Regions from separate parts of the Homo sapiens genome. Here region 2 is linked to region 1. Evidence: fine-mapped expression QTL. A gene starts in region 1. The other region holds a variant in brackets. All regions are shown on one strand. Distances are from middle to middle. Region 1 holds the start of SLC1A4 (solute carrier family 1 member 4). Region 2 has its middle 23 kb from the start of SLC1A4.

Evidence for each region. PIP is the estimated chance that this variant, and not a neighbour inherited with it, causes the effect. A credible set is the group of variants that fine-mapping cannot tell apart.
Region 2: its variant is the best candidate, but not a certain one, in a credible set for the expression of SLC1A4 in adrenal gland (GTEx, PIP 0.71).

The regions. Positions count from the first base shown.
Region 1 is chr2:64,980,235-64,994,306 of GRCh38, reverse strand. SLC1A4 (solute carrier family 1 member 4) reads right to left here and starts at 4,908. Exons shown (of 8, transcript NM_003038.5): 1 at 4,137-4,908. The coding sequence starts at 4,663. RefSeq lists silencers at 4,509-4,688, 4,899-5,598 and enhancers at 4,322-4,906, 8,442-8,511, 8,822-8,891.
Region 2 is chr2:64,958,387-64,974,859 of GRCh38, reverse strand. It overlaps the pseudogene RPL11P1. Among named protein-coding and RNA genes, the nearest start is that of SLC1A4, 23 kb to the left of the region's middle. The variant A/C (reference allele first, on the strand shown) is at 7,692.

The sequences.
Region 1 (14,072 bases):
TCAATCCCTTCAATTTATAGCGGAGGTCAACTGGAGATCATAAGCATGTAAGGCAGGGGAAAAAGAAACCGGAATGTCAGTGAGAATCTGTGGGGACTTCTGTCCCATTTCAGAATGGAAGGCTCTTCTGTGTTTAGTTTTGACTTCTCTCCCTTTCCAAATTTTCCATAGTGTGACTCTATTAATTAGTAGTCTAAAACATAGTCAGTTACTGTTCACTTCTCCTCCAGATGCCATGTGGTTCCCAATACACCTAGAGACTACATTAGCTTCAAGTCATCTTGAGTTCCCCTAAACATTCCTCTTCTTCCCATCTACCCTCATTTATTTCAGGTTACGGAAAGAGGGCCATCCCCATTAGCTCAGGTGAACTGGAAAACCCAATCACTCTATTTATAACAAGAGCACAGGTGTATTGGGCCAGCACTGTTCTAACAGCTTTAGAACCCAGAAGAGCTTTAGAGCTCTTAGACACAACCCAGCTAACCCTCAGAACAATCCTGCGAGGTGGGTACCATCATGATTCCCATAATAAAGATGAGGAAACCAAGGAATGGAAAAGTTATGGACATGTCCCACAACCAGTAAGCATTGTTAGGGACCAAGAAGTTCCACAATGACTAGTTTCCTGATAACCTGTTTCTGTCTCTTTGGTGCCCAACCATTTCATTTTGGATAAAAACCCACAAGTCAACCACTTAGGTCACACATGGTTCTGAAAGTCCTATACTGTTCTGGATTCCCAGGCACAGAACTCCGGGCTGCTCAGGAAGAGACTATGATTCTTCCACCTGCCAGCTACTATTGGCCATCCCTTCTCATTGCTTCTAGCTCCAGCCTTCTCATCCCAATTCTCTATTCTACATTGTTATTTCTAACCCATTGTGTGCTGGGAAATCAAACCACTCAGCAATGACATTCTGAATTTTAAAAAAACATATACACATGTAATGAATACCTACTAGCTTCATCTCTTTCTGACTTGTAGTTCCAGCTTTAAAAACCAAATTAGAAATCATGACAGAGAGACCCTGGGGGATTTGGGGGCACTTTACCATCAGGAAAGGGCATGGACTTTAGCACAAAGCCTCAGCAGCAGCTATGCTGACTCATCAGAGGCCTTTCCCACTCTTCCAGGTGTTTAAGTTCTGAGCAGCTACCTCGAGAGGGCCTGCTGGATAACTGAGGCGTTTACTGGCAGAGTCTCATTTCATTCACGTGCCCCTAGGAAGAAAGGAATGGGGCACTGCCTTTCCAAAGAAGATGCCCAGAGTCACATGAAATCCACATCCGTGAAGTTTCCTTGAAGGAAGCAATTTTTTAATTTTGATGTCAGAGACTCTCCAGACTCAGGAAGCATTTCCGGGTGGCTTGGGACTTAGTTTCCTTTCACAAGCTGCTTCAGCCTGAGACCAAACCTCAGCGGTGCACACATACTTTCCTTCACTTGAGGAGCTCAGCCTCCACGCTGGCTGGAGGAAAGGAGCATTTGTCTTTACCCAGTCATATGCCTACCTGGTTCCTCTCTGGGCCCAGAGAAAGCATTTCTGAGATAGCCACACTAGACTAGGCAGGTGACATTACTAAGGCATGTTGACTTGGAGGAAGAGGGATTAGGAGAAAGAGAGAGAACCCTGCACTGTGGGGTAGGAGACCCACAGTCCTTCTAATCTCTTCTTTATAAGCCACTCCATGACCTTGAGCAAATCGCTTAATCTCTGTCTCAGTTTTGTCAGTCATAAAATGGGATATACCACCTGCCCTACCTTTATCCGTGAGCTGCTGGATTAGATGAAGTTGGCTGTTGGAAGAATTATGAAGCAATACCTATCCCCAGCAAGCCACAACAAAGCCTCTCTTAGCCCTCCATGCAGGTGCAGCCCAAGTCATTGAAAAGTTGCACCCACACTACTAAGCTATGACGCTGGGTCACCATCCATGTCAGAAGCAGGAGGTGAAGGGGCTTGGGTCTAAAACTAGAAAACCATGATCAGGAAACAAGAAGTCCCTTCAGGAGGTAATGAGGTACCCCCTACCACCACTGCCCCCTCTTCTGGAGTTAAAAGATCCTATTGAGGCTCCCGGTGCGGGACCATAGCAGGACAGAGCTGAACATCCATTCTCCCTCCCTGGGCCACAGATCCCTGCAAAGAATAATCCTTTAACCCCATTATTGCCTTTCCTCCCTGAGAGAGCTGACCGACCTCCTACAGGTAATAGGCTAAAGGTGCTCTCAACCTCAGGAGACTTCTTTTCAGCACTCACCTAAAAGTTAGTTTCCAAACTTAAAAAGTGTCTGGACTCCAAATATCAAGCTGCCAGTCACAGAACAAAGGCTGTGATCTAGACCAGCCTGGGCAGCATAGTGAAACCCCATCTCTAAAAAAATTTAAAACAGTTAGCTGGGGCCAGGCAGGGTGGCTCACACCTGTAATCCCAGCACTTTGGGAGGCCGAGGCGGGTGGCTCACGAGGTCAGGAGATCAAGACCATCCTGGCTAACATGGTGAAACCCCGTCTCTACTAAAAAATACAAAAAATTAGCCGGGCGTGGTGGCACGCGCCTGTAATCCCAGCTACTCGGGAGGCTGAGGCAGGAGAATGGCGTGAACCCAGGAGGCGGAGCTTGCAGTGAGCCGAGATCGCACACTGCACTCCAGCCTGGGTGACAGAGCGAGACTCCGTCTCAAAAAACAAACAAACAAACAAACAAAAAGCTGGGTGTGGTGGTGTGCACCTGTAATCTCAGCTACTCTGGAGACTGAGGCAGGAGGATCGCTGAAGCCTAGGAGTTCGGGGATGCAGTGAGCTAGGATCCCAACACTGCACTCCAGTCTGGGCAAAAGAGCAAGACCCAGACTTTAAAAAAAAAAAAAAAAAAAAAAAGCTGTGATCCCCTTAAAAGTCCTAATAGGCCACCACTATCTGCCCTTTTGGCAAGAACTTTTGGTCTCCCTCATGAGTGGTTTTTTTTTGTTGTTGTTTGTTTGTTTTTAAATACGGATGTCCTAGATTTTTGTTGTTTTAAGTGAACAATCTCTCTCTTAAGTGCAGACAGCCATCACATTTTCCAGAAGGAGAAATGGAAACAGTTGGAAAGGCAAGTCACTTTGCCCAGGGTTTGCTGTTTTTCACAACCTCAGCAATGAGGAGCTTTGCCTCAATAACTCAAGACAAAATATATTAATAACTCCAAGGCTCAGAATCCAAAATCATCAGAAATCTGGAGAAGGAGCCAGCTGGACTCCTCACTCAACTGAACCTGGTTAGATCAGTAAATGCCTCCGGGCTGCAGTTTCCCCATTTGTGAACTTTGGGCTAATGGAGAAACCAGGAGAGACCAAGGTTTTGGATAAGTCACAGAAAGGATACTACATCATCTCAAAGGATGAAATGCAACTTCTAAGAATTGCAAAAAGCAGGCAAAACTAAGTGAAGATGCTTCTCTCCCTCCCCTCTAGAACTCACACTTTCGCACAAAGAAAGGCCTTTGAAACACAGCACTCTGCCGTGGTCTTTACTGGGGTGGACAGCAACCTGTCCCAAGCCCCAAGCCCTCAGGAGAGGCATATTTCTGGGCAATATGTCTCACTCAACTAACCCCAGCCCTATTATCCGTGGGTCCACTGATAACTGCAGAAAATTGCCAGCTTCCTTCGCAGCCAAGGACTGTAACAGAGAAGGCCATAGATTGCAAGCCGGATGACCCAAGAGGCAAAACTTAACCAATGCTCCCAGAAGCTTTTAGGCACCATGTGGGAGAAAATGAGGCGAAGCCACTGGGGCGTGGTCGGAACATTTTTACCGGGGAGAGCAGCGCGAGAGTATAAGGAGTAAAGAACAGGCGGGGCGGCTGGCTCTTCCCTAACAAACGCCCACCTAACGGTGGGGACTGGTTCTTGCTCAAAGATGCGGCCCTGCTCTTTCGATTGTGCGGTGCGCCCCAGCTGTTTGCAAAGGTGTGGTCAGCACGCAAAAACTCCAGACGTCATTTTGATATTTTTAAAACGTTAAACGCCACCAGCAGCCAGCTAAGAATTAACTCTTAGGAGTGTATAAGCATATGGGTGTATGAACTGGAGGGCATCCGAGAACTGGCGTCTCCCACTGGGCCCTGGGAGAGGTGGAGAGTGTTACCTGGCCAGGTCGAGGAAAGAGTCCACCGTCTCTTTGGGGACAGGAGGAGGCCCCGAGTCCTCCAGCCCCAGGTCGCTGGACTGAAGGGTCTGCGCACCGGATCCTGGCTTGATGATGAACGCCAAGGCCACGGCGAGCGCCGAGGCACTCAGTGTGGTGAGGCCAAAGTAGGCGACAGCGATGCCGCCCAGACGCCCGAGGCAGCTGGCATCGAGCGAGGCGGCGCCCGACACCAGGCTGCAGACCACCAGCGGCAGGATGATCATGCGCAGCATGCGGAGCAGCATCTCGCCGGGGAAGGCCAGGTAGGTGACCTGCGTGCGGCTCAGGCTGAGCCCGCGCAACGCCGCGCCCAGGCCCGCGCCCGCCAGCACCCCGGACACGGTGAGCAGCACCAGCGCTTGGCGCCGCAGGAAGCCCGCGCAACGCCGTGCGCGTCCCGCCGCGGTCCCCGGAGCTCCGGGCCCGGCCGCAGGCCCCGCCTGAGCGCTGTCAAGGTAGCCGTTGGTCTCGTTGCTCTTCTCCATGGCGCTACACGCCGCTCCGAGCTAGAGGTGGCAGGGGACGTGGGCTCTGGCAAAAGACGGGGTTCCCAATGAATGGGTCGGTCGGCCAGTTGTGCTCCGCAGGTTCTGGGAAGCCGCCCCGGGGGTCTCCGGGCCTGGCGCAGGAGCAGGTGCGAGAAAGGCGAGGAGAGGCGCAGAGTGCGGGTTGGAGCCGCGGGCGGAGAGGATCGCGCCCAGCCTCCCTGGAGCAGCCGCCGGCTGGAGATGATGCAAACGGGAGCCGCGAACGCGGACGCAGACGGGGAAGTAGGAGGGCGCGCCAGCGGCCCCAGCCCGCTCACTTCACGCCCGCCGTCCCGCCCCCTGTGGCGCTGGCCAATCACAGCCCGGGAGCCGCCGCCGGGAGCCGCCGCCGGGAGCCTCTGGTCCCCACCCGTGTCGCGGGTGCCGCAGGGGGCGGCCGGGCGGGAGGCTCCACCCGAGGCCGCGGGGGCGCGGGCGGCGCCGGCCAATCCTGGCGCCAATAGCCGCCTACCCGCCCGGCTAACGGAGGCCGGCTCCGGGCGACCGCGGGGAAGTGCGGGCTGAAGGACCGCCCGGGCTCCTTGGCACCTGCCGGGCCCTCTCCCGCGGCCGGGATCTGAGTCCTCGGGGCCAGAGGGCCCGGGAGAACTTAGAACGCAGCGGCGTTCCTCCTCCTGAGGACTGTGGGAGGGGAGGGAGGGGAGGGGAGAAGAGAGGAGGAGAGGGGAGGATCCCTCTCTCCCGGGTGGCGCTTTCGCCCCGCGCGGCCCGCGCTCCTCTCCAGAGCTCGCCGGCCTCTCCCGCCAGGGGGCCGGGCGCGGTGAGGGGGCCCGGGGCGGTCCTGCCGTCGCGTCCCCTCCTGCGGAAGATCCCTTCTTCCAGGGGTCCTCAGGGGCTTGTGCGGTAAAGCACGCCATGGTGCCCAGCAAGGCCCCGGCCTTGAGACAAAGGACGGACCGGAGGATGGATGAATAAGGGGAGCCTTCGCACGCGCTCATTAGGGCTCTAACGCAGCCATACCGCTAGAGAAAGGGGGCTCGCTGTGCCACCAAACCCGGCGCCCCTGGGCCGCGGAACCGCGCGCACCGGGGCGCTCCTGGGCTTGTGTCCTGGGGCCATCAGGATGGGGCTGGGTCGCCCGCCAGGCAGCTGTCTGCGGTATGGGCGTTTAAGACGCAAAGCTCTTCTAGAAGAAACAGAGCTCTCACGCCACCACTTCCAGTTGGTTTCTGCCACGTAACCAAAGCTGAAACACAAGCCACTGGATTTTAACCTCTTCCGTTCCCAGGCCTGAGCCCTGGCGAGAAAACAGCGCAGACGGCGGTTTGGCCATCCTGAACGGTTCCTTATTGTTCACGTTCTATGGATTTCCTGTTTATTTCATCTTTTATTTGATATCTGCTTTGGCCACGCGAGTTACAAGGGAAACTTCTGCTGAGTCTTTTTACTGTATCACAGTTATTATATTTTTATATTTTTTTATTCTGCTTGTGAATTGTTCTTTAAAGACTTCCGTGGGTGGTCTTTTGTTTTTTCTTTTTCCTTCCTTCCTTCCTTCCTTCCTTCCTTCCTTCCTTCCTTCCTTCCTCCCCCCCTCCCTCCCTCCCTCCCTTCCTTCCTTCTTTCCTTCTTTCCCTTTCTTTCCTTTCTTTCCTCTCTTTCTGGGACAAGGTCTCGCTATGTTGCCCAGGCTGGTCTCCCAGTTCCTGGGCTTATGGGATCCTCCTTGGTAGCTGGCACCACCCACTGTGCCAGGCAAGGGAAGACTTAATTGTGGCTAACCTCAATTAAGGAGGAAGGCAATTTACTATAGATTTCTTGCTATAAAGGAGTCATCTTAAAACATGTCATGACATATTTGTGCAAATCAAAATGCCTTCATAAGGAACTTTAAGGAGCTGTCCAAATTTTGAGACAGTGAGTATTTTATTGCTTGGAGCCAGCCAGCTATTGGCTAGAACTTGTAAGGATTGTGTGTGGGGGGGGGGGGGGTGGGCGGGGGAGGTAGTGTCAGATGAAGAGCTGCACATATTTATATCTGGCTTTCCAGAATGCAGTTCATTTCTCTATGTGCACTGAAGAAAGAGTAATTCCTACAGACACACACTGTGTTTTGCCAATCAGCCCTTCCCTTTGTTTTGACTACCACGTTTATGCAAAAGACTCTCAAATCATGCTCCAGAAATGAGTCTTCGGCTGCCTGTTTTACATCTTCACCTGAATATCCTGCAGGCGTCCCAACTAAAATGTTCAAAACCAAACTCATGGTTGCCTTCCTCAAACCTGCTCATCCCTTCGGTTAAAACATAATTGATGACCCAGTCACCTCTGTGTGAAACTTCAAAGCGAACTTTGATTCTTCCCTCTGTGGTGCCTTCTCTCATCTAATGAATTGCCAAGTCCCACAGAGATTCCTTTCACAATATTTATCACATCTGCCCATCCCATCTATTCCCACTGCTACCACACTGGCTCAGTTCTTATTTCCTCACTTCTTATCTGGGCTATTGAAATGTTCTCCCAATTAGTCTTCCCACCTCCAATGCTCCTCTTGTTCCAACCATCCTGTATTTTGCCTTGCCCCAGGCTAATCTTCCTAATGAGTAATATACATGTTAGGATAAAGTTCAGCTTTCACCCAGCAGAAAAGAAAGAGCAATGAGGGCATGGCATCTCTCTTTAAAAACACTTCCTAAAAGTCATACACATTATTTCTCTTATATTTCATCGATAAGAATTTAGTCAAATGACCATTCTTTTCTGCAAGAAACGTTAGGGAATGTAATTTTTGTTTTACACAGGCATCCACCCAGTTAAAAAATTGGAGTTTCTGTTACTAAGGAAACACAGAAAAATGATATTGGAGGACAACTCCTTCATATCACTTCTTGTTCAAAAGCTTTCAGTGGCTCCCAGTGAATTAAGAATGTGTTCCTCATCCTGGCATTCGAGACCTACCATGATCTGGCCTCAGCCTGCTCTCTAGCCATGTGCCCTCTATGCCTCCTGCAAAAATGGCGCTGTGTGCTCCTTCCACATTGTTTTGCCTCTCCATCCAGTCCCAGTTCAGATACCACATTCCTCCCATAGCCTTTCTGAATCCTCTTTGCACCAACTCTGCTTGCTGCTTGCAGCTTTTTATGCTGTACCTGTGCACTCCAAAGCTGCAATAACAGTCAGTCAACCCTCAATTGGGAGTGGGGAACTCCCTGAACTACTAGACATCGTGTGGTGCTGAGTGTGAGAGCACTGTTTGGGGGTGCCTTATACTATGCCACATATATCTGTCATTGAATTAGCGAAAGGGTCTCTTGGGGCCTTTTATCTCCAGAGGGCTGCCCTGTAGCCATTCTGCCTACTTGTGAGGCAAACCAAGAAATAGGTGTCCTCTTCTGGCCTCCGTGACATTTGGTGGTATTACTATATCTCTCTATGAAAGGGTTCACTTTCTGCCACCTTTTTCCCTCTTTCTTCCTCTCCTTTTGCATTTTTTGGTCTTTTGATAATTTTACATGCCTCCTGTTTGTAGGTATTTTGTGCAAAAAAAAAGTTGATTCCTGTGTTAGACACCTTCCCCCACAGTACTTATATGTGTTTTCCCTGATTTCTGGATGCGTAAGTACTGAATTATAGCAACGCCTTACAAGTGATCCAGCCTGACAGCATTACCGCTACTGTCATCTGATCCCGTGATAGGCTAAAGTATTGTTCAGCCAAAATTTATTCCCTTGTTTCTTCCACTTAGATAGGAGTTTACCTTCCCCATTGCCTTTGAGCTTTGCCATTTAGCTCCTTGGCTAGTGGACTAAGTGGATGTGATGCAAGCGGAGGCATCAAAATGTTTTCACACAATCGCATGTGGACTCCTGCATACGTGTGACCCAGCATGCCTTGGGTAGATGCTGCCCTTTCAGCCTGGCACCAGAACAAAGACAGGAGTGTGCCTGAATTTAGCCTGCAGCCCTGATCAAACCCAGCTGCCTCACAGCCTAAAGAAGAACACCCCAGTCAACCCACAGACCCATGCGTGAGAAAAATAAATGCTTATTGAAACCCACTGAGTTCCGGAGTCATGTGTTATACTGCGTTATTGTAGCAATAACTGAGTAATACAAATGCTCACTTCAGCATCTGTTCCAGTTATCTGTTGCTGCATAACAAACCAGCCTAAACCACGCTGGCATAAAACAACAACCATCTCAAAAAGGAGTGGCATAAAACAACCACCAATTTTTTTATGCTCATGATTTTATAGGCCAGAAATTCAGACAGGGCATAACAGGAGGTCTCATTTCTGTTTCACAATGACTGAAACCCCAAGCTGGGGTGGCTTAATGGCTAGAGATGGCTAGGACAGCTCACTTGGGGTCCTTTGCCTGAGGCCTAGGTTCTGGCTATCTATTAGGATCCTCGTTTCTTTCCCACATTGCATCTATTGAGTCTGGAATGTCCAAGATGCCTCTTTCATTCACACGACTGGCACCTTGGCTAGTGGGTTTGGATCTGCTGGGGCTAGCTGGGCATCTGTTGCTCTCTCAGTGTGGCTAGCTTGGGTTTCCTCACAGTATGGCAATCTTGGTGAAGTCAAATCTCTTATGTAGTGATTGATTTCCCCCAAAGTGAGTGTCTTAAGAAATGTAGGTAGAAGCTGCAAGACTTCTTCTGACCTAACCTCAGAAGTCCCAGAACATTACTTCTTTCTCATTCTGTCAGTCAAGCAAATCATTAAGGCCAGCCCAAATTCAAAGGAGGAGAATTAGATCCCATCACTCCATGGTGGGAATAATCAAGAATTTGCAGCCATCTTCAATCCACAGTAACATTACTGCTTAAATACTCGTGTTTTGTGGGCCAGCGCAGCACACATAAGTCACTACTTGCCCTAGCTCTGGTGTTTCTTTAGACAACTCTACTAGAAATTTGCTTTGGACAGTCTCTCAATAAATGGTGCTGGGAAAACTGGATATCCATATGCAGAAGAATGCAATTAAACCCTCATCTCACACCATATACGAAAATCAACTCAAAATGGATTAAAAACTTAAATTTAAGACCTGAAACTGTTAAACTACTAGAAGAAAATATGAGAAATATGAGAAAAGCATCATGGCATTGGTATGGGAAATGATATTTTAAAAATATGACCCCAAAGCACAGGCAACAAAAGGGGAAACAGACAAATGGGATTATGTCACACTAAAAAGCTCTGCAGAGCAAAGGAAACAATCAACAGAAGGAAGAGACAACCTACAGAGTGGGAGAGTATATTTGCAAACCAGACATCTGATAAGCGGTTAATATCCAAAATATATAAGGAACTCAAACAATTCAACAGAAAGAAAACAAATAACCCGATTAAAAAATGGGCAAAGGACTTGAATAGACATATCTCAAAAGAAGGCATACAAATGGCCAATAAGTCTATAAAAAATGTTCAACATCACTAATTATCAGGGAAATGCAAATTAAAACCACAATGAGATATCACCTGACAGGTATCAGAGTGGCCATTAACAAAAAGAAGAAAGATAACAAATGTTATAGAGGATGTGGAGAAAGGAGAACACTTGCACACTGTTGGTGGGAATGTAAATTAGTATAGCCATTATGGACAACAGTATGGAAGTTCCTCAAAAAATTAGCAATGAAAACAGCAATCCCTGGATGTATATCCAAAGGATATGAAATCAGTATGTTGAAGAGATATCTGCACTCCCATGTTCATTGCTGCACTATTCACAGTAGTTGAGATATGGAAACAACCTGTCTATCAAAGGATGAATGGATAAAGAGAATGTGGTACATAAACACAATGGAATACTATTCAGCCTTTAAAAAGAAGGAAATCCTGTCATTTGCAACCACATGGATCAATCTGAAGGATATTTTGTTAAGGTAGGCACAGAAAGAGAAACCATATGATCTCATTTATATGTGGAATTTATTATACAAAAGTAGAACTCACTGATACAGAAAGTAGAAAGGTAGTTACTAGAGGCTGGTGATTGGGGGGATTGGAGATATGTTGGTCAAAGGAAACAAAATTTCAATTAGATAGGAGGAATAAGTTCAAGAGATCTATTGTACATGATGGTGACTGTAGATAATAACAATATATTGTATACTTGCAAGTTGCTAAGAGAGTAGTTTTAAAGAGTTCTTACCACAAAAAATAAGTATTTGCAGAAATGTGTATGTTAAATAGTTTAGGCATTCCACAATGTATACATATATCAAAACATCATGTTTTACACCATAAATACATACAATTTTTTATAAAATAAAAGAAAGTTATTTTGTCATGATTTAGTCATGTTCTTAAAACCAGGACTGCATCATCCATCATGAAGGAGACTCAGTTTCCCTCATTAAAGAATGGCTATAGATTTTTTACTTACAGAGTGATAACAATAGTTTTATTCCTTTCTTGTCAAAGTGACTGCCACTCCCAATATACTTATGTATCCATGAATAGTGTATTGTACTCACACGCCGGCTTCTGCTAGCAAAGAGGTTGTCTCAGCTCTATCTTCACATCTGATGACCTTTACATATTTTTCACATTATTTCACTAGATTCACCAGGAACATCACCAAAATCATGGAGCAGGAGTTATTTTTCTGCCATGAATGGACTGAAAAAAGAAAATTTTGTCCTTCATCACAGGCAAATTTGGATTTTGGAGTACTTTTTACTTTTCCTAAGAGATACCAGATAGTTGAAGTAACAATTATATTAAAAAGGTTAAATGCCAGTTTAGTTCTTTCCATATCAGCAAAACACAACTTTGTAGGAAGTACGATGTGATTTTTTTTTTAAAAAAAGATTATTTGCTCTCCAAATAGATCTGACTACTTAGCAAACAGAGCAAGCAAAGACAAAATCTAAAGTAATAAATGAATTCTTTTTCTCCTGTGGTGAATAACTTAGTGTACAGTGGCATACTGGCATCAAAGTACTGATGACTTTGTAATCAGTAATCCTTTTTCTAGGCTCCCCTCAGTATCATCCCTACAAACCAAAAAGAAAAAAAGAGAAAAAAGGGGCCATAGAAATGCCCCTAGAACCAAAAGGTCAGGTGCAGACTCAGATAAACAATTTGAGTCAATAGTAAAAAAGGAATTTGGTCAGAATGGGAGTAAAAGTCAGAATGAAACTGAAGTAAAGTGTCTGTCTCCATGGTTTTAGAGACTAGCTAAAGACATAATAACTGACATTTTCTTTGTAGAAGGGTCTGGTGAAATAAGAGCACCGAAGAAGACAAGTTAGAAGATGGGAACACCAGTTAGGTTGGTGTCTGGGTTTTGTGGGTGGCAGTTCTAAGGCTAGGGATTTAATTCAACAACACAATGAGATGTTTATGTAGTTTCCCACTAAGAATAAATCACTCTGCACGGCTCATAGAATGAATACAAAACTGGGGAGTAAGAATTACTAGAGCAGCTGATAAAATGCATATTCCTGAGCCTGGAGCAGGGCCTTGGAACCTGCATTTCAACAAGCCAATCCCTCCCCCACCATATTATTCAATTAAGAATAATTTATAAGGGCATTGAATTAACAGAGTTCGGCATTAAAGAACAAAATAAGATCTAGAGTTAGGCCTTTAAAGCCTGCCAATCAAGTCCTTCCAACTAAGTGCAATGCTATAAGGTGAGAAGCTGGTGGAATTAGAGGAGAGGGGGATTGGATAGGGTGGAGAAGAAATGGGTATCAGTTAGTATGAGTTATAGTTCTCACAAGAATTTATTGTGCTTGGTGTAAGAATTCACTGGAGTGGACTAAAGTCTATTTGGGAAAAAAGATATGGACTCCTGAAAAAGGTAACTCGTCTTACAAGTAGAGCTCAGAGCTCAGGGTTAACTTTCATCAGAGTCACCTAGAAAGAATTTGAAAAGGCCAGATTCCAGGGCTCTACCCTGGAAATTTTGTTTCTGTAGCTCTGGGATAGGACCCAAACATCTACATATATTTTATTCTTCCAGTTAATAAATTAATGAGATATAACAACAAAATGCAATGGAATCTAGATGAAAAGAAAAGTACAATATTGAGGGAATTAAGGAAAATCTTGTGTGGACTATATGTTGAACTTCATGTTGAGTTCTTTTAAGGGGTGACAATGGTGTTCTGGATATTAAGACAATAGCCTCGTTCTTGACAGACCATGAAGGAATATTTAGGGATGAAGTGTCATGGCGTCTGCACACAATTTTTGGGTGGCTTGGCAAACAGGAATTGTATACAAATATAAAGAGAATGATGCAGTGGGGGAGGTAAGATGTTAATACCTGGTAAAACTGGATGAGGATATATGGGTGTTGTTCTGTTCTTGAAACTTTTAAGTAGATTTAAATGTTTTCAAAATTATTATTATTATTATTTATTATTATTCTTTGAGATGGAGTCTCACTCTGTCACCCAGGCTAGAGTGCAGTAGTGCGATCTCAGCTCACCACAACCTCCACTTCCTGGGTTCAAGCTATTCTCCTGCCTCAGCCTCCGGAGTAGCTGGGACTACAGGCACGTACCACCACACCTGGCTAATTCTTGTATTTTTAGTAGAGACAGGATTTTACCATGTTGGTCAGGCTGGTTTCGAACTCCTGAACTCAGGTGATCCGCCCGTCTCGGCCTCCCAAAGTGCTGCTGGGATTACGGGCATGAGCCACCGCTCCCGGCCCAAAATTTTCAAAATTACAAAACATTGTTTTTACAGGAAAGAATAATGATAGAGCAAAAGACTCCACATTTGATTTTGTTCCACAGCAGAGTTGTGCAATTTTAGTAGAAAGGTAAGTATCACAGAAGCTCGGAGCAGTGAGACGTCACAGGGGCCCAGAACTGTGGTTCGCCATTCGTTTTCTCCAAGGGCACACATGACAAATGATGTTTACACACAGTGCCTACAGCCATAGGTGGACCTAGGTTTAGAGGTAATTCCTGGCTACCGGCCTGTAACACAACAGATTTTCTTTCCACTTAAGGAAGAATGTTGGCCTGCAAGTAAAGGATGTTATCACAGGGATAACTTTGAATTCACTCAAATTCATTTAAAAAATAATAATGTCTTAACTTCTGTACATTTGTGTGGAAGGAGTTTGGAAATACAATAAATCATTTGAATGTACAAAGAAAATTTAGATCCTTTGCTACCTGTAACTGATCTAATCTTTGTCATGAGCAGTCATGGCCCTGGGTCATTGCATGGAAGAGAAAATGACTTTAACCCTCTAGTGAATATAGAGGAAGTCTTTTCCTGCTTAGAGAGCCTCATGTGAATAATTCTGAGTCGTTTGGTAAATACACAGTGTTTTAGACTTCCTCTCTATCAAGTGACTCTACAATGATGTGATTATAGAAAGTTGTAAGGACAGTTACAATTTTTTAAAAATTGAGAAAGAAG
Region 2 (16,473 bases), 21 kb after region 1:
GTGGGTGTGGGAATATGAAAGCTCTTTGTATTATTGCCATAATTTTTATGTAGGTCTAAGACGATTCTAAAATTAAAATGTTTATTTTTAAAACTTTGCATAAGACAGGTCTGCATTACACCTTAGCCTGTTAACCCAGGGTGTCTCCAGGAAGTAGACGGGGTGGGGGTGGGGAGCTGCCACTTCGAGCCCCTACTGTGTGCAGGGTTAGGGGCTGGAGAGATTGAGGAGAATGAAAGGCACACGCTTGCCCTCACAGCGTTTAGAGTCCAGCAGGGAAGGGCTTTTGATACTTCTATAATATTTGAATTTTTCTCCCACGGACATGACCTACTTTCAAAATCTGATTTTTTATGAAAAAAAAAAAGGTACAACATAAAGCTAAATACAAGTGAGAAAGAGCAGATTCTCCTTATAAATGTTAACGTGGATTGGGTGTGGTAGCTCACACCTGTAATCCCAGCACTTTAGGAGGCGGAGGTGCGAGGATTGCTTGACCCCAGGAGTTTGAGACCAGCCTGGGCAACTTAGGGAGACCTCATCTCTACAGAAATAAAAAATTAGCCAGGCATGGTGGCACACGTCTATAATCCCAGCTACTCAGTAGGCTGAGGAGGTGGGAAGATGGCTTGAGCCCAGGAGTCTGAGGCTGCAGTGAGCCACGATCAAGCCACTGCACTATAGCCTGGGTGACAGAGTGAGACCGTGTCAGAAGGAAAGGGAAGGAAAGGAAAAGTAAAGGGAATGGAGGGGAGGGGAGGGGTGGGGAGGGAAGCACAGGGCCCCCAAAAATTAAAAAAAAAAAAAAAATTAGCAGATTTCCTTGGACACACTGCTACCTATTCTTGGACTATGGTTTTTAAATTTCTTTTTAGGTCTAGACTAGAGTTCTGTCAGTTGAGAATGATGTTTCCCAAACTTACTTAAACTTGACCACAGAATACATTAAAAATAATACAATCTTGACAGAACAACAGCAGATATGCATATGCTCTAATGCAAACTTGTATTAAAGAAGGCCAGGAAAAGGGCCACCTAGATGAATTTCCTTAAGGAAAAAAGTTCAGTCAAAACATCTTTTATCTCACACGTTCTTATAAAACTTTTAAAATGAGTTTTTAAATCTATTTTGTGTCTTTTATATATTTCTTAAATATTTTCTATCTTTTAGAAATCACTTATCTCCATGTTGGAAACAGCATCATTGTGGCTAAGAGGTGTATGAAGCACAGCTTTGGATCTACGCTTTCAGTGCAGTGTGTTGGGAAAAGTCCACTTTGCCCAGATACACTGCAGCCAAGGGACGGAGGATGAGAGCTGCATGCTGTGTGATATTTGTGCCCTCTTAAATTAGGCTACTTCAAATGCTGTTCATGGTTTCATTTTGGGCAATTTACAACTAGATTTTTTTTTCCTTTTAGAAAGTTCAAGCTCAATTGCTCATCTCTACTTTAAAGTATTCTATATTTGCATTTGATTCAGATATCATCTAGCAAGTGAAGACACTTCTTTTCATCTAAAGCTTTCTTATTTTAGCCGTAGATCTAAGGAGAACAAGTTAGTGCCATATATTTGTTTAGTGCTCAGTATGCATTTTGCAGTATCACAGATACTAAAACACATGCTAAAATTATGTGACAAGGTACATATACATTAGAATTGCATTTGGCTGCATGTAACAGGGATCTGACACCAATGGCTTAACTAAATAGGGGTGTTTGTTTTCCTATGATAAACAATTTGGAGATGAGCAATCCAGGGCGGATGCAGTAACTCTATGATGTCATCAATGACCCCAGCTTCATCTGGATCCCTGGGTGACTATTCTTAGCATGTGGCTTTTGTCCTCATGGTCACCAGCTGTCTACTGCACATCCAGGTGTCAAGTCTGCATCTCAAGCAGGAGGAAGGAGGACAAGGATAAGAGGCAAAATGTGCCTTTCTCATCCACCAGAAAAACAACATTTCTCTGAAAGCCAACTTAGTAGACATCCCCTTACATCTCACTGACCTAAATGCTGTTACGTGACCACTACTAGCTGCAAAGGAGCTGAGAAAAAGCAAGTCCTGTAGCTGGTCCCATGGGTACCTTGAACAAAATCATGGTTCTATTGTAAAGGAAGGCAGAGAGAGTGAATGCTGTGTAGGTGCCTCTCAGGGCCTGCTGCCATCAGCTTACAAGGCATTTGGTAAACACTGCTCCGTCCTTGGCGTACAGAGCAAACGTCCTGCGGGGATTGTTCCAGCTCTTTCTGGTATAGGCAGACTACTACGTAATTAAAATAATATTTTTCACATATGTGCTATTCTAGAATAAATTTTGGTAGGAAAAAATAGCATTGGCATCTGTTATTTTCATGGAACATGTATTAAATTTCTTCAGAGTACAGATTAGGAAACTCCAACCTAAGTCATAGAAATAACCTATTCCAAATGACAGCTGTATTTTATATTAAGAAAACCCAAAACTGGCCGGGTGCAGTGGCTCACGCCTGTAATCCCAGCACTTTGGGAGGCTGAGGCGGGCGGATCACGAGGTCAGGAGGTCGAGACCATCCTGGCTAACACGGTGAAACCCCGTCTCTACTAAAAATACAAAAAAAAAAAAACAAAAATTAGCTGGGCGTGGTGGCAGGCGCCTGTAGTTCCAGCTATTTGGGAGGCTGAGGCAGGAGAATGGCGTGAACCCAGGAGGCGGAGCTTGCAGTGAGCCGAGATCGCGCCACTGTACTTCAGCCAAAACTTACTTAAAGATTTCTTTAAATAATCTCTTAAATTTAAAAATCTAATTTAACTTTAAATTTTAAAATCTATTTATAGGCCGTATGCAGTGGCTCAACGCCTGCAATCCCAGAACTTTGGGAGGCCGAGGCAGGTGGATCACTTGAGGTGAGGAGTTTGAGATGCCTGGCCAACATGGTGAAACCCCCTCTCTACTAAAAATACAAAAATTAGCTGGGCGTGGTGGTATGGTGTGCGGCTGTAGACCCAGCTACTGAGGAGGCTGAGGCAGGAGAATCACTTGATCCCAGGAGGCAGAGGTTGCAGTGAGCCGAGATGGCATCACTGCACTCCAGCCTGGGTGACAGAGCGAGTCTCCATCTCAAAAAAAAAAAAAGAAAAAGAAAAACCTATTTATATATCTCAGTACCAAACCTGTTGTATCCTACTTAGGGCCACTAATTTTCATTTCCAAATTCCAAATGGATAAGTAGTAACAAATTGTACATTTTCTGGATAACTCTTCTGAAAACAAAAATGATAATTTATTCACCTGAATCTTTTTAGTATCTGCCTCACTGTTTTGGCATTCTCATATGGTTTCAACAGTGTGTGATTTGACCTGAGAACAAAAATGGCATGTTGGAATGTATTTCTTTACCTCAGTACTGACTTAGGTTTACAGATGAAGGCCTCTTCCTGCCACCATCAGTTTTTAGTCTATCTGTCTATACTCATCTACATCTGGAGTGAAATTAATCCTCTTTCCTGCACTCAATCCTAAATGATATTTTTTTTTAAGAGAAAGTATCTCACTGTGCACAGGCCAGGCTGGAGAGCAGTGATGAGATCATAACTCACTGCAGCTTTGAACCTGGGCTCAAGCAATCTCTCCCCCAACCTCAGCCTCCCAAGTTGCTAGGGATATAGGCAAGCATCGCCATGCCTGGCTAATTAAAAAAATTTTTTTAAGACAGGGGTCTTGCTATGTTGCCCAGGCTGGTCTTGAACTCCTGGCCTCATGCAATCCTCCTGCCTCAGCCTCCCAAAGTGTTGGGATTATAGGCATGAGCCACCATGCCCAGCTGACTTCATTTTTAAATGTAAAAAATAATGCCTGTTACTTACCAAGATAATACAAGCTTATTATAAAAAAATAAAAACATCACAAACATTTATGTCTCAACTAGCACAAGTTCCTTCTCATAATAATTATTAACATTATTTATATTCTTGCAGAATTTTCAATGCATATATATATGTGATATATAAAAATGTATACATAAAAGACATCGTTGGCTGTCTGTATAACATCTACCTTTGTTCTTTTCTAAACAACCCCATCTTGTTCAGGAAATCCAAGCTAATTCCTGTGCCAAAGGCTGGCTTAAGAGAGGGCCCACAATGCAATTCTGGCCTGTCTTCCTCTGCTGGATGTCACCTTATTTGAACTGGACACTTAGAACCATGACAGCCATCTGTGTCTATGAGGGAGTGAGCCAGAGAACCAAGCTGACATGTTGAATATGGACTTCTTTAAGGGCATGATGGCAAACATCCTCATTGTGTAAGTCGAATAAGCCAGGGTTTTCTGTGTTTTGCACCTGAAAAAACCTTAATTGATAGACTATATTTGTCACCATTATAGAAGTGAAATGTCATTGTCTAGGTTGATCAGTTTGTCCCTGTTTGCATGGGGCTTTTCAAGTCTCAAAACTAGAGTCCCATATCCCAGGAACCCCGTTAGTCCCTAGAAAACCTGGACTACCTGTTGCCCCTACATTATAGATACTTCTGCAACTTTTATTTCACATGTATCTTGCATGTCTTTCCATATTAATATATAAAGACCCATATTGTTACTTTGGGGCTTTCTAGAATTCCTTTGGATGGATCATTTTGTGTCAGGAATTGGTGGGTTCTTGGTCTACTGACTTCAAGAATGAAGCCGCGGACCCTCGTGGTGAGTGTTATAGCTCTTAAGGTGGCGCCTCTGGAGTTTGTTCCTTCTGATGTTTGGATGTGTTCGGAGTTTCTTCCTTCTGGTGGGTTCGTAGTCTCGCTGGCTCAGGAGCGAAGCTGCAGACCTTCGCGGTGAGTGTTACAGCTCCTAAGGCGGCGCCTCTGGAGTTGCTGTTCCTCCCGATGGGCTCGTGGTCTCGCTGGCTTCAGGAGTGAAGCTGCAGACCTTCGCGGTGAGTGTTACAGCTCATAAAAGCAGTGTGGACCCAAAGAGTGAGCAGTAGCAAGATTTATTGCAAAGAGCGAAAGAACAAAGCTTCCACAGTGTGGAAGGGGACCCGAGCGGGTTGCCACTGCTGGTTCCGGCAGCCTGCTTTTATTCTCTTATCTGGCCCCACCGACATCCTGCTGATTGGTAGAGCCGAGTGGTCTGTTTTGACAGGGTGCTGATTGGTGTGTTTACAATCCCTGAGCTAGACACAAAGGTTCTCCACGTCCCCACCAGATTAGCTAGATACAGAGTGTAGACACAAAGGTTCTCCAAGGCCCACCAGAGTAGCTAGATACAGAGTGTCTATTGGTGCACTCACAAACCCTGAGCTAGACACAGGGTGCTGATTGGTGTATTTACAAACCTTGAGCTAGAGACAGAGTGCCGATTGGTGTATTTACAATCCCTGAGCTAGACATAAAGGCCCCACCAGACTCAGGAGCCCAGCTGGCTTCACCCAGTGGATCCCACTCTGGGGCTGCAGGTGGAGCTGCCTGCCATTCCCGTGCCATGCGCCCGCACTCCTCAGCCCTTGGGTGGTCGATGGGACTGGGCGCCGTGGAGCGGGGGGCGGCGCTCACTGGGGAGGCTGGGGCTGCACAGGAGCCCATGGAGTGGGTGGAAGGCTCAGGCATGGCGGGCTGCAGGTCCCGAGCCCTGCCCCGCGGGAAGGCAGCTAATGCCCAGCGAGAAATCGAGCGCAGCGCACGTGGGCTGGCACTGCTGGGGGACCCAGTACACCCTCTGCAGCCGCTGGCCCGGGTGCTAAGCCCCTCATTGCCCGGCGCCGGCAGGGCTGGCCGGCTGCTCCGAGTGCAGGGCCGGCCAAGCCCACGCCCACCCGTATCTCCAGCTGGCCCGCAAGCGCAGCCCGCAGCCGCGGTTCCCGCTCGCGCCTCTCCCTCCACAACTCTCTTCAAGCTGAGGGAGTGGGCTCCGGCCTTGGCCAGCCCAGAAAGGGGCTCCCACAGTGCAACGGTGGGCTGAAGGGCTCCTCAAGTGCCGCCAAAGTGGGAGCCCAGGCAGAGGAGGCACCAAGAGCAAGCGAGGGCTGTGAGGACTGCCAGCACGCTGTCACCTCTCAATTTCACTAACATACTTTTTTTTTTTGAGATGGAGTCTCACTCTGTTGCCCAGCCTGGAGTGCAGTGGTGTGGTCTCGGCTCACTGCAACCTCCACCTCCCGGGTTCAAGCAATTCTCCTGTCTCAGCCTCCTGAGTAGCTGGGACTACAGGCGCCCACCACCACGTCCGGCTAATTTTTGTATTTTTAGTAGAAACGGGGTTTCATTATATTGGTCAGGCTGGTCTCCAACTCTTGACCTCAGGTGATCCACCTGCCTCGGCCTCCCAAAGTGCTGGGATTACAGACGTGAGCCACTGTGCCCAGCCTCATTGATACACTTTTAAATTAAACTGACCTATTCGTTTTGTTAGCAATATTGTTCCCTGTTGGTTTTAAAAGAAGAGTTACTATAAGCACTCAGATCTCAACTCTTTTTTCTCTTTGTAGTCAATATTTTATAATAAAGTGATCTCTGAGTAGGCAGAAGAATACATAAAATAAACAAAGCCCTCAGAGGCTCTGTCTCGTGTTTTAACATGCAGTGTCCTCCTCAGCCTCCCTTGGCAGAGCTGTTCTGTGCCTTCCCTCCACCTTAGTTCCAGCCATCACTTTCTCTTTCATTTGTCCTATCCTCAGGGACTTTGGGTTTGAAGGAAGAATTTGCGGATGCCACACCGGATACAGGGTATCCAATCCTGCATCTCACTCCAAACAAATGTTTTCAGTCTTTTAAACCTGAAATAAATTTGCTGGGATCTAGGTCTTCCCTAATTTTGAAGCATCAGGTATCAGAACACACCAATTTTCTGGGTAATGATTGGTTTTAGAACATTTTGTTCTGTGTCAGAAAATTTTCAGAATTACCCTTGAGAGAAAACTTTGTTTTGGCAAGTTGAATAATGTATCAGTTAGGATCATTTTTACCATAAGAAATAGAAAACCCATTGCAGGTTGGCTTAAGATAAGAATTTTTACTGCCTCTCATTACAAGAAGTCTGGGGGTAAAGGTAGTCCCGGGCTTAGCTCAGAAGTTCAGTGATACTATCAGGGACCTTGGTTCTCCCGATCTTTCCGCTCTGCCATGTTCAGTGATTGGCTCTTGGTTATAACACGGCTGCAGCATCACATACTCATAGAATGGCATCCCTACATAGAAAAAGGAACTGTGCCTATCATCTGTTCCCTTTTGAAAGTGAGGAAACTCTCCCCCCAAATCCTCTTGCAGACTTCCCTCATATCTCATTTGCTCCACTCACATCCAAGTGTTTGTCCAAACCATCACTCAGAAATCCAGGAATGAGACAGCTGTGATAGGCTCAAGCCAATCAAGAACCACCCTCTGCCTCACTTAAGGAACATCAGAACATGGCGCCTGGGAGGAGGGGAACAAAACCAAGTGGCTGGGAGGGAAGTGCCAGGTGAGAGTGAGGTTGGGGCTGTTGGATAAGCAACCAGTAGTTTTTGCCAATGGGACCGCTCCCCAAACTTTACTGGGTTATATAATTGCAAACTCTCTCAAGTCGTGTTTCAGTTATATTATGGCTTATGGTCTTCATTTAAATGGGATAACTAGGAGGGTTTTTTGGTTTTTTTTTTGCCTTGACTGTTGATTCTTTAAAGGAAATCCATGCTAATTAGCAGCAGCAGCTGTCCAAGCCTCGGTTTCCTTAT[A/C]TATAAAAGGAGCTTAGCAAACCTATACTCTGAAGGTTCTGAGAGGATTGGAATGATACACAAAAGCTCTTAGGACAGTTCCTGACACTTGATGAGCATCGTGTAAATATTTGTTATGCGAAGTTTTGATACAAGTCCAAAATAAATGATCTGGTTTCCTAACTTGCACCATTCCGATAAAAGTAGCAAATTACTGTATAATGGTTTACGGGTATCTCATTGTTTTAAAGTTCATTCTGAAAGATGGCCAGCAAATACACCTCATGGAAATCAAAACGATTTCACAGACCCCTAAAAGAATGAGTGCAGCTAGGCTCTAACGCAGGTTGAATTACTGTTCCCTTCCACTTTGCTTCACTGTATTTTCCTTTTCTTAAAGAAAGTTCTTTGTAGAGACAAGGCCTCCCTATGTTGCCCAGGATGGTCTTGAACCCCTGGGTTCAAGTGATACTCCTGCCCTGGCCTCCCAGAGTCCTGGGGTTACGGGCATGACCCATCGTGCCTGGCCTGCTTCACAGTATTTTCTAGTTGTTTTTTATTAATACACTTTAAGATGCTTATCATAAAAAGGGGACTATGGTAGGCTGCATGGTAGTCCCCCAAATATGTTTGAGTCCTAATCCCAAGAACCTGTGACTATGTTAGCTCATATGACAAATGGGAATGAAGGCTGTGGATGAAACTAGGTTGCTAGACAGCTCACCTTAAAAGGGGGAGCATAGCCCGGGTCATCCAGGTGAGGTCAGTGCAATCACAAGGGCCTTAAATGAGGAAGAAGGAGGCGGAAGAGTGAGTGTCGGAGCGATGTGACGGGAGGAAGACTTCACTGGTCACTGCTGGCTTTGAAGCTGGAAAGGGGCCACAGGCCAAGAAGTGTGGGCACCTCCAGGAGCTGCAAAAGATAAGCAGATGGATTCTTTTCTAGAGCCTCCAGAGGGAACACAGCCCTGCCCACACCTTGATTTTAGCTCAGTGAGACCTGTTTTGGACTTCTGACCTCTAAAACTGTAAGATAATAAATTTGTGTTGTTTTAAGCCTGTAAGTTTAGTGTTAGTTTTTTACAGCAGCAATAGAAAATGAATGTAGGGAAAGAATGTAATTTCAACTCAGGCAGAAATGACATTTAAGAACCCCAAATACCCTTTTGTGTCAAACCTTGCCAAACAAAAAGGTAAATACTGAACAGCTGAAACACTTGTCACACTGCTGTGATTATGGGGGTGGGATTGGAATCAAACCTCCCTCTGCATCAGGATGCAGGGTCTGTTGTGGTCCTGAAAATACATCTACAATGAAAAGGCATAAATAGGATGTCATGATTTTATTGAAATATGGCCACACGATGGGGTAAAAGCCAGGGATATTGACCAGTTTGCTTAAAAGAAGCAGAAAATATTAACTGGTGCATATCAGCAAAGGAGGAAACAGTAAAACGGTATGCAAAAACAAAGGAAAGAATGTCTGAACAAATGGTATTTTGGAGCCATTTAGTTTCAGGGAAAATAGGCTTACATTCTTGCCTGCTGTATTTATGGCATGGACATTCAAAGTGATGATGCATCCACATCAAAAAGGAGCTGAAGAGGTTTCTTTTCTTTTTTCGAGATGGAATTTCGCTCTCGTTGCCCAGGCTAGAGTGCAGTGGCGCAATCTCGGCTCACTGCAACCTCTGCCTCCTGGGTTCAAGCAATTCTTCTGTCTCAGTCTCCTGAGTAGCTGGGATTACAGGCGCTCGCCACTGCACCTGGCTAATTTTTGGTATTTTTAGTAGAGACGGTGTTTCACCATGTTGGCCAGGCTGGTCTCGAACTCCTGATCTCAGGTGATCTGCCCGCCTCAGCCCCCCAAAGTTCTGGGTTTCTTATGGTATACTTAAGATGGCAAGAGAATAGGCAAGACATTCCCAAAATGATATAAGTTTGTTTTTAAGCTTTAGGGCTTTAAAAGGAGTAAACCTCAGTTTTCCAAATTACGTCTCACATCACATCCCCCCTCCAAGTAGGAGACAAAGGATGCTTGCTAGGGTTGGGCTCGTGATCTCACACATCAGTGGGTTCAGTCTAGTTTGGGGTTGAGGCTTAGTCAAGTTCTGGCTTCCGTCCCTGTGTTCTGTGTTCTGTGGGCCTTCCAGACACTTGTGTGGCTGCCTGGCCCAGGTCAATGGAGTCTGTCCAGTGGTAGGGGACTCAGTGCAGGAAGAGAGAGAAAGCCTCATATTTTGTTCCTGTCATCTAATGTGTTACCATTAGTAATTCAGGCTTTTCTGGTAATGGGATGTAATTCCAAGCAGAGTGTTATGGTGACCAGGCCTTATATTTCTTTACTTAGCAGTTGTAAATGTCAATGGGATTTTTAGCTGATAGGTATGTTTGTTTGTTTGTGACAGGATCTCACCCTGTCACAAACTGGAGTGCAGTGGCGAGATCTTGGTTCACTGCAACCTCCGCTCCCAGGTTCAAGCAATCCTCCCACCTCAGCCTCCCTGAGTAGCTGGGACTACAGGCACGTGCCACCATGCCTGGCTAATTTTTGTATTTTTTGGTAGAGATGGGGTTTCACCATGTTGGCCAGGCTGGTCTTGAACTTCTGACCTCGAGTGATCTGCCTGCCTCAGCCTCCCAAAGTGCTGGGATTACAGGTGTGAGCCACCATGCCTGGCCTAGCTAATAGGTTTCTATATTCCATTATTGATGTTTTGGTTCTTAGCTCCTCTGAGGAATCTCTATGAAACCATCTTTTAAATTGTTTCAACTCTTATCCACTTATTATTAGTAATAATATAAGATGATTTGGATAAAGGTTCATCTTAACCTATTTGTTGTTACTTAATTATCTTATCACATTCCTTATTGCATGTTGACAGCAAACCCTTAGCCACTTTTAAAATATGTCCCACATATCAAAGCTAATAATAATAATGACTACCTTACACTGGGGCCTTACACTGGTGCCTACCATGTGCAAGGCACCATGTTTTATATGGCTTAATTTCCCCAGCAATTTTATGGGATAGACACCTTTAAGATCACTCTATATGTGAGAAGAAAACTGAATCTTGGAGAGAATCATTAGCTTGTGAAAATCACAAAGCTAGTAGATGTCAGAGCCAGGATTTAAATCTAGCCCATCTGACTCCAGATACAAACTCTTAACCACTCCTGCTAATGTGCAGAACTTATCTGGGAGCTTATGAACACCTGCAAACTAAAGTGGATGGGGCAAATCCATTCCTACCACCATCTAGTGGAGGCTTCTAGAGCCAGACAGAATTGTGTCTCCCTCTGTCCCTGTTCCCTCTTCTGCTCTGAGTCTGCTTCCCTGGCCAGTGGCTGCTGCCTAGGGCCTGCTGATCACCACCTGCATCTTGGGGACTCAACTGTTAATAATTGCCGGGAACTGAGCTGTAGCATGTCAGTCCAGGAGCTGGTGACTTAGCAAGTCACCTTACCTCCAGCAAAGTCCCCTAGGTCACAAGACCAGGCTTTCCGAGAGGCGGGAACCTGGGTGTCACTAGGGCAGAGTAAAACGGATGGGGTAGCTGCACACATGCCCTTTCTACTGCCAGGCCCTTACCCCTTGAGTCAGCAGCTCTTCCTCCCAGGAATGTCTGTAATTAAGGTCAATGGGAAACTACAACAATCCAATCCAAACAGGACTACAAATGGCCCAGACCCTTCAGGAATGAAAGTTTGGGTCAGTCCACAAGGTAAAAATCCACAACCCACTGAGGTGCTTGCTGAAGGCAAAGGGAATACAGAGTGGGTAGTAGAAGAAGGTAGTTATCAATACCAGCTACGACCACGTGACCAGTTGCAGAAACGAGAACTGTAATTGTCATGAGTATTTCCTCCTTATTGTGTTAAGAACGTGTTTGTGCATGTATACACTTGTACTAAGAAAATATCTTCATTTTATTTCCTTTCTTTTTCCTTTATCATGTGACATGAAATTTATTGACTTCACACCTGCATTTAAGTGTTGTTAACTTTATGTAATAGCATTTAAGGATTAGTGTGTTTCCAGTTGTAAAAGAATAGCTGTATTACGTTAGACATAATTATGACCGTATTATTGTCTTTATTTGGAGGATAAGTATGATTTCAGGAGGTGTTTATGGGTTCAAGTTGACAAAGGGTGGACTCATGATGGTTAATATTAAGTGTCAACTTGATTGGATTGAAGGATGTAAAGTATTGTTTCTGGGTGTACCTGAGTGTTTCTGAGTGTTGCCAGAGGAGATTAACATTTGAGACAGTGGACAGGGAGAAGAAGACTCACCCTCAGTGTGGGTGGTATCATCCAATAGGCTTTCAGCACGGCTAGAAAAAGCAGGCAGAAAGCATATTAATCTTAAATTTCATATATGCTTTTATGGTGTTGATACTACTTATGATGCCTAAATGTACAATCGTGTACATTTGTGCAAAAATGTACAAAAACTGGCAAGCTTTCAAGAAAATGACATTCAGTACTATGTCTGGTGATGTCAGAATTTTATATTTGTAAATATATTACAAATATATCAAAAAAAAAAAAAAGAAAGAAAAGAAGAAGCAGGCAGCAGAAGGTGGAAGGAGCTAACCTGCCTAGTCTTCCGGCCTTCATCTTTTCTCATGCTGGGTGCTTCCTGCCTTCGAACATCAGACTCCACGATTTTTGGCTTTTGGACTCTTGGACTTAGACCAGTGGTTTGCCAGGGGCTCTCAGGTCTTAGGCCACAGACTGAAGTCTGCACCGTCACCTTCCCAACTTTTGAGGTTTTGGGACTCAGACTGAGCCACTGCTGGCTTCCTTGCTCCTCAGCTTACAGATGGCCTATTGTGGGACTTCACTTTGTGATCATGTGAGTCAATTCTCCTTAACAAACTCCTTTTCTTTCTTTCTTTCTTTTTTTTTTTTTTTTGAGATGGAGTTTCACTCTTGTTGCCGAGGCTGGAGCGCAGTGGCACTATCTTGGCTCACTGCAACCTCTGCCTTCTGGTTTCAAGCGATTCTCCTGCCTCAGCCTCCTGAGTAGCTGGGATTACAGGTGCCTGCCACCACACCCGGCTAATTTTTCTATTTTTAGTAGAGATGGGGTTTCACCATGTTGGCCAGGCTGGTCTCAAACTCCTGACCTCGTGATCTACCCGCCTCAGCCTCCCGAAGTGCTGGGATTACAGGTGTGAGCCATTGCGCCTGGCCCAACAAACTCCTTTTTATATCTAGATATATCCCATTAGTTCTGTCCTTCTAGAGAACCCTGACTAATACACTTCCTCATGATCCATAATTTGTACCTTACCTTCTGGGGCTTTCGGGGACTTGAGTCTAGTTATAAATCTAGGAAAGAGAGAGGTGGTGGGGATGGGTTCTGCAGAGGATTATTACAGGATCTTTAGACAAAGGGGAACCAGTCCTCTCAGATGATGGAAGGGTTGCTTCTATTAGCAAAGAAGATTCAGCAGAACTTGGGGTTCAAGTTCCCAGCTTTACTGGAATCTCCCCGTATATCCCCTTCCAGTTCTCAGGGCCCCTCTCCTTCCCAATCAGTACCCTTACTTTAACAAAAGAGGTACTACATGGCTGCAAATTCAATTTGCCTTGTAATTCAGCCACCCACAAAATTAGACTTTGGATTTAGTTTCCCTGTGGCTATAGGAGATTAGGGTTTCTTTAAGTAGTCATTGGAGCTTCCAGATTCTTAATGTGAGCCTTGAGCTGGAAATTTGAAGTCCCGAGCTCATCATTTTCTTTCCTTATGTTCTCCAGCCCAATGAGAAGCATGTCCTCCTTATTTTCATTAAAAGGAACTACAGCCTCAAATGCTTAGTAACCTAGAGCCTAGCTTTCTATAAAACTTGATTACAGGTCTCTAAATGTAATAATTTTACATTACTGTCTTGTCATTGCAGGCCATAAAGTATCAGTGCCCTCTTTACCTCTGGAAATAGGCTCATTAATGCCTGTAAATCTAATCAGATCAGAAAATCAATTCTAGATAAGCCAGAACGAATTCAAAGAAATCATCCTAAGATTCTGCTCCTCTGGAACTACTCTGAGTACTGGATTTTTTTTTAAAGTGCCACAATTGACCTTTCAGTGAGAGAATTCTCCCAGTTGAGTTTAAATTCACAGAGAGCAGGCTCCAGACACCCACCACAGACTGAGTGTCCTCTGGCAAGGCTGATCCAAGACGGCCTTCACTTTGTTTATCCTCCTTCCCTCAGAACATCTTGTTTCTCCTGTAGGCTTTGACAAAATAGTTGAGTCTAAATTCTATAAATACAGGGTACTGAGAAGATGGTTTTGCCTGGGAACATTTTTTAAAGCCCAAAGTGTTAATAGGTGGTGTTGTAATTATCTCCTGTGTCCTATTAATTTCTGAGGTCCTGAAAGAACCACACTTATTCTTAGGAGAGATGTCTGATCTTGAAGTTACTGAAGAACCCCCAATTTTATCCAGGTATCGAGGACCTCTCTGAAGGACTCTGAGCAGAATTTAACATTCAGGAGTGATTTCTTTAAATTTTAATTTTATTTAAGAAATTTGGCTCTTCCTATTCTCCATGATGGTGCAGGATCAAGGTGAAAAGAAGATCCCCACTTGGGAACTTCACATCCACAAACTCGCCTCAATATCTGTGTGGGGAGGGTAGAGACAGACTGACCTGAGCAGCTCACAGGCCAGACCCCTGTGTTTTCCAAAGCCAAGTACAGCATCAGATCCTTCAGCATCAGGAGAAATGAAGAGATTGCCGTCCACTGCACACTCTGAGGGGCCAAGGCAGAAACAATCCTGGAGAAAGGTCTAAAGGTACAGGAATATGAGTTAAGAAAAGAAAAAAATAATCCCTCAGATACTAGAAACTTTGGTTTTGGGATCCAGAAACACACCGATATAGGTATCAAATATGACTCAAGCACTGGTATCTATGACCTGGACTTCAATGTGGTGCTGGACAGGTGAGGTTTTAGCATCGCAGACAAGAAGTGTGGGACAGACTGCACTGGGGACAAACAGAGTCAGCAAAGAGGAGGCCATGTGCTGGTTCCAGTGGAAGTGTGATAGGATTATTCTTCCTGGTAAAAAAGTTCCCGTTTCTACCCAAAAGGCCAATACAAAGTTTTCAGTGGGGAAGCAGGGGGAAAGGAAAAGAAACATAAAGTGTAATTCATAGGGCAAGATATATATATATATATATGTGTGTGTGTGTGTCTGTGTGTGTATATAATTTTCAGGCAAGGTCTCACTCTCACCCAGGCTGGAGTGCAGTGATGCAATCTTGGCTCACTGCAACCTCAGCCTCCTGGGCTCAAGTGATCCTTCCACCTCAGCCTCCTGAGTAGCTGGGACTACAGTCACACACCACCACGCCTGGCTAATTTTTTTTGTATTTTTTTTTTGGATGGGGTTTTGCCATGTTACCCAGGCTGGTCTCGAACTCCTGGGCTCAAGTGATCCACCCGCCTCGGTCTCCCAAAGTGCTGAGATTATAGGCGTGAGCCACCATGCCGGGCTGATAATTTTATTTTGGACTCTAGTTCCCATTAAACATTAACTTAAAAATTTTGGACTTTGGGTTCATTGGACTGAATTTAAAAAGTTAATTTTTAGGACTTTAATTTTCCTTGGGCATTTGATAGCAGCAAGGATGTTTATATTCAAATTTGGGCCCTCTCTATTTGTTAGAATTTTATTATTGGAGCATCTTTTTGTTGTCATTTAATTCATTGCAGAACCAATGATGGGCAGCATTAGATAGTGCGGCTGGATGTAATTTTAGATGAAAAACAGAATAAGCTTTGGTACAACTTGACCTTAGAACATGTGGCAAATTGTATTTTATGAAATTGGCCTTCGGTGAAATAAGCCAGACACAAAAGGACAAGCACTGTATGATTTCACTTTTATGAGGTACCTAGAATAGCGAAACTCCTAGAGACAAAAAGTAGAGTGGGGTTGCCAGGGGCTGGAGCCGGGGGGAATAGGGAGTTACTGCTGCATGGGTACAGAGTTCAACTTGGGCAGGTGAAATTCTGGAGAGAGAGAGAGAGAGAGAGAGAGAGAGAGAGAGAGTGGTGATGGTGCACAGCAATGCAAATGTACTAACTGCTACTGCAGTGTGCATGTAGAAATAGTTAAAATGGTAACTTTCATGAAGATTTCACCACAATTTTAAAAAGGAAAACAATAGCCACAACAATATTTCCAGTCCCACATGCTCTTCCAAAACCTTGCCACTCTCCCATTAGGAGTAAGAGTCTCTGTTCCTAATAGAGGACAGCAGCAGTGATGCTGTGTGGATTCTGAGACCCAGTCATGAAAGACGACGTGGCTCCTGCCTGGTTCTCTCTTCATTTCAACATGGACCTTTGGAGCCCTGAGCCAAGCTGAAGCCACCCTGCAGGAAGACCATGTGGGATGGTTACATAGCGATAGAGAGAGCTGCCCAAGGAGCCCCGCTGTGTGAGTCTTCCTGGTTCACGTGCCAGGCGTGCGAGTGAGGAAGGCATCACACTGACTGCAGCCCTGGCCGCTGACAGAGAGACCCCAAGTGAGAACTGCCTGCCGAGCCCAGTCAACCCCACAGCTGTGAGAGACAATAATCATAGATTCTTTTTCTGACACTAAATTTGGTGTAGTTTATTATACAGCAATAGACAACTGGAACACAGCCCATTTAATTTTTGTTTTAAGACAGGATCCTGCTCTGTCACCCAGAGTGCAGTGGTGCAATCACATTTCACTGCAGCTTTGATCCCCTGGGCTCAAGCAACTCTCCCAACTCAGCCTCCTGA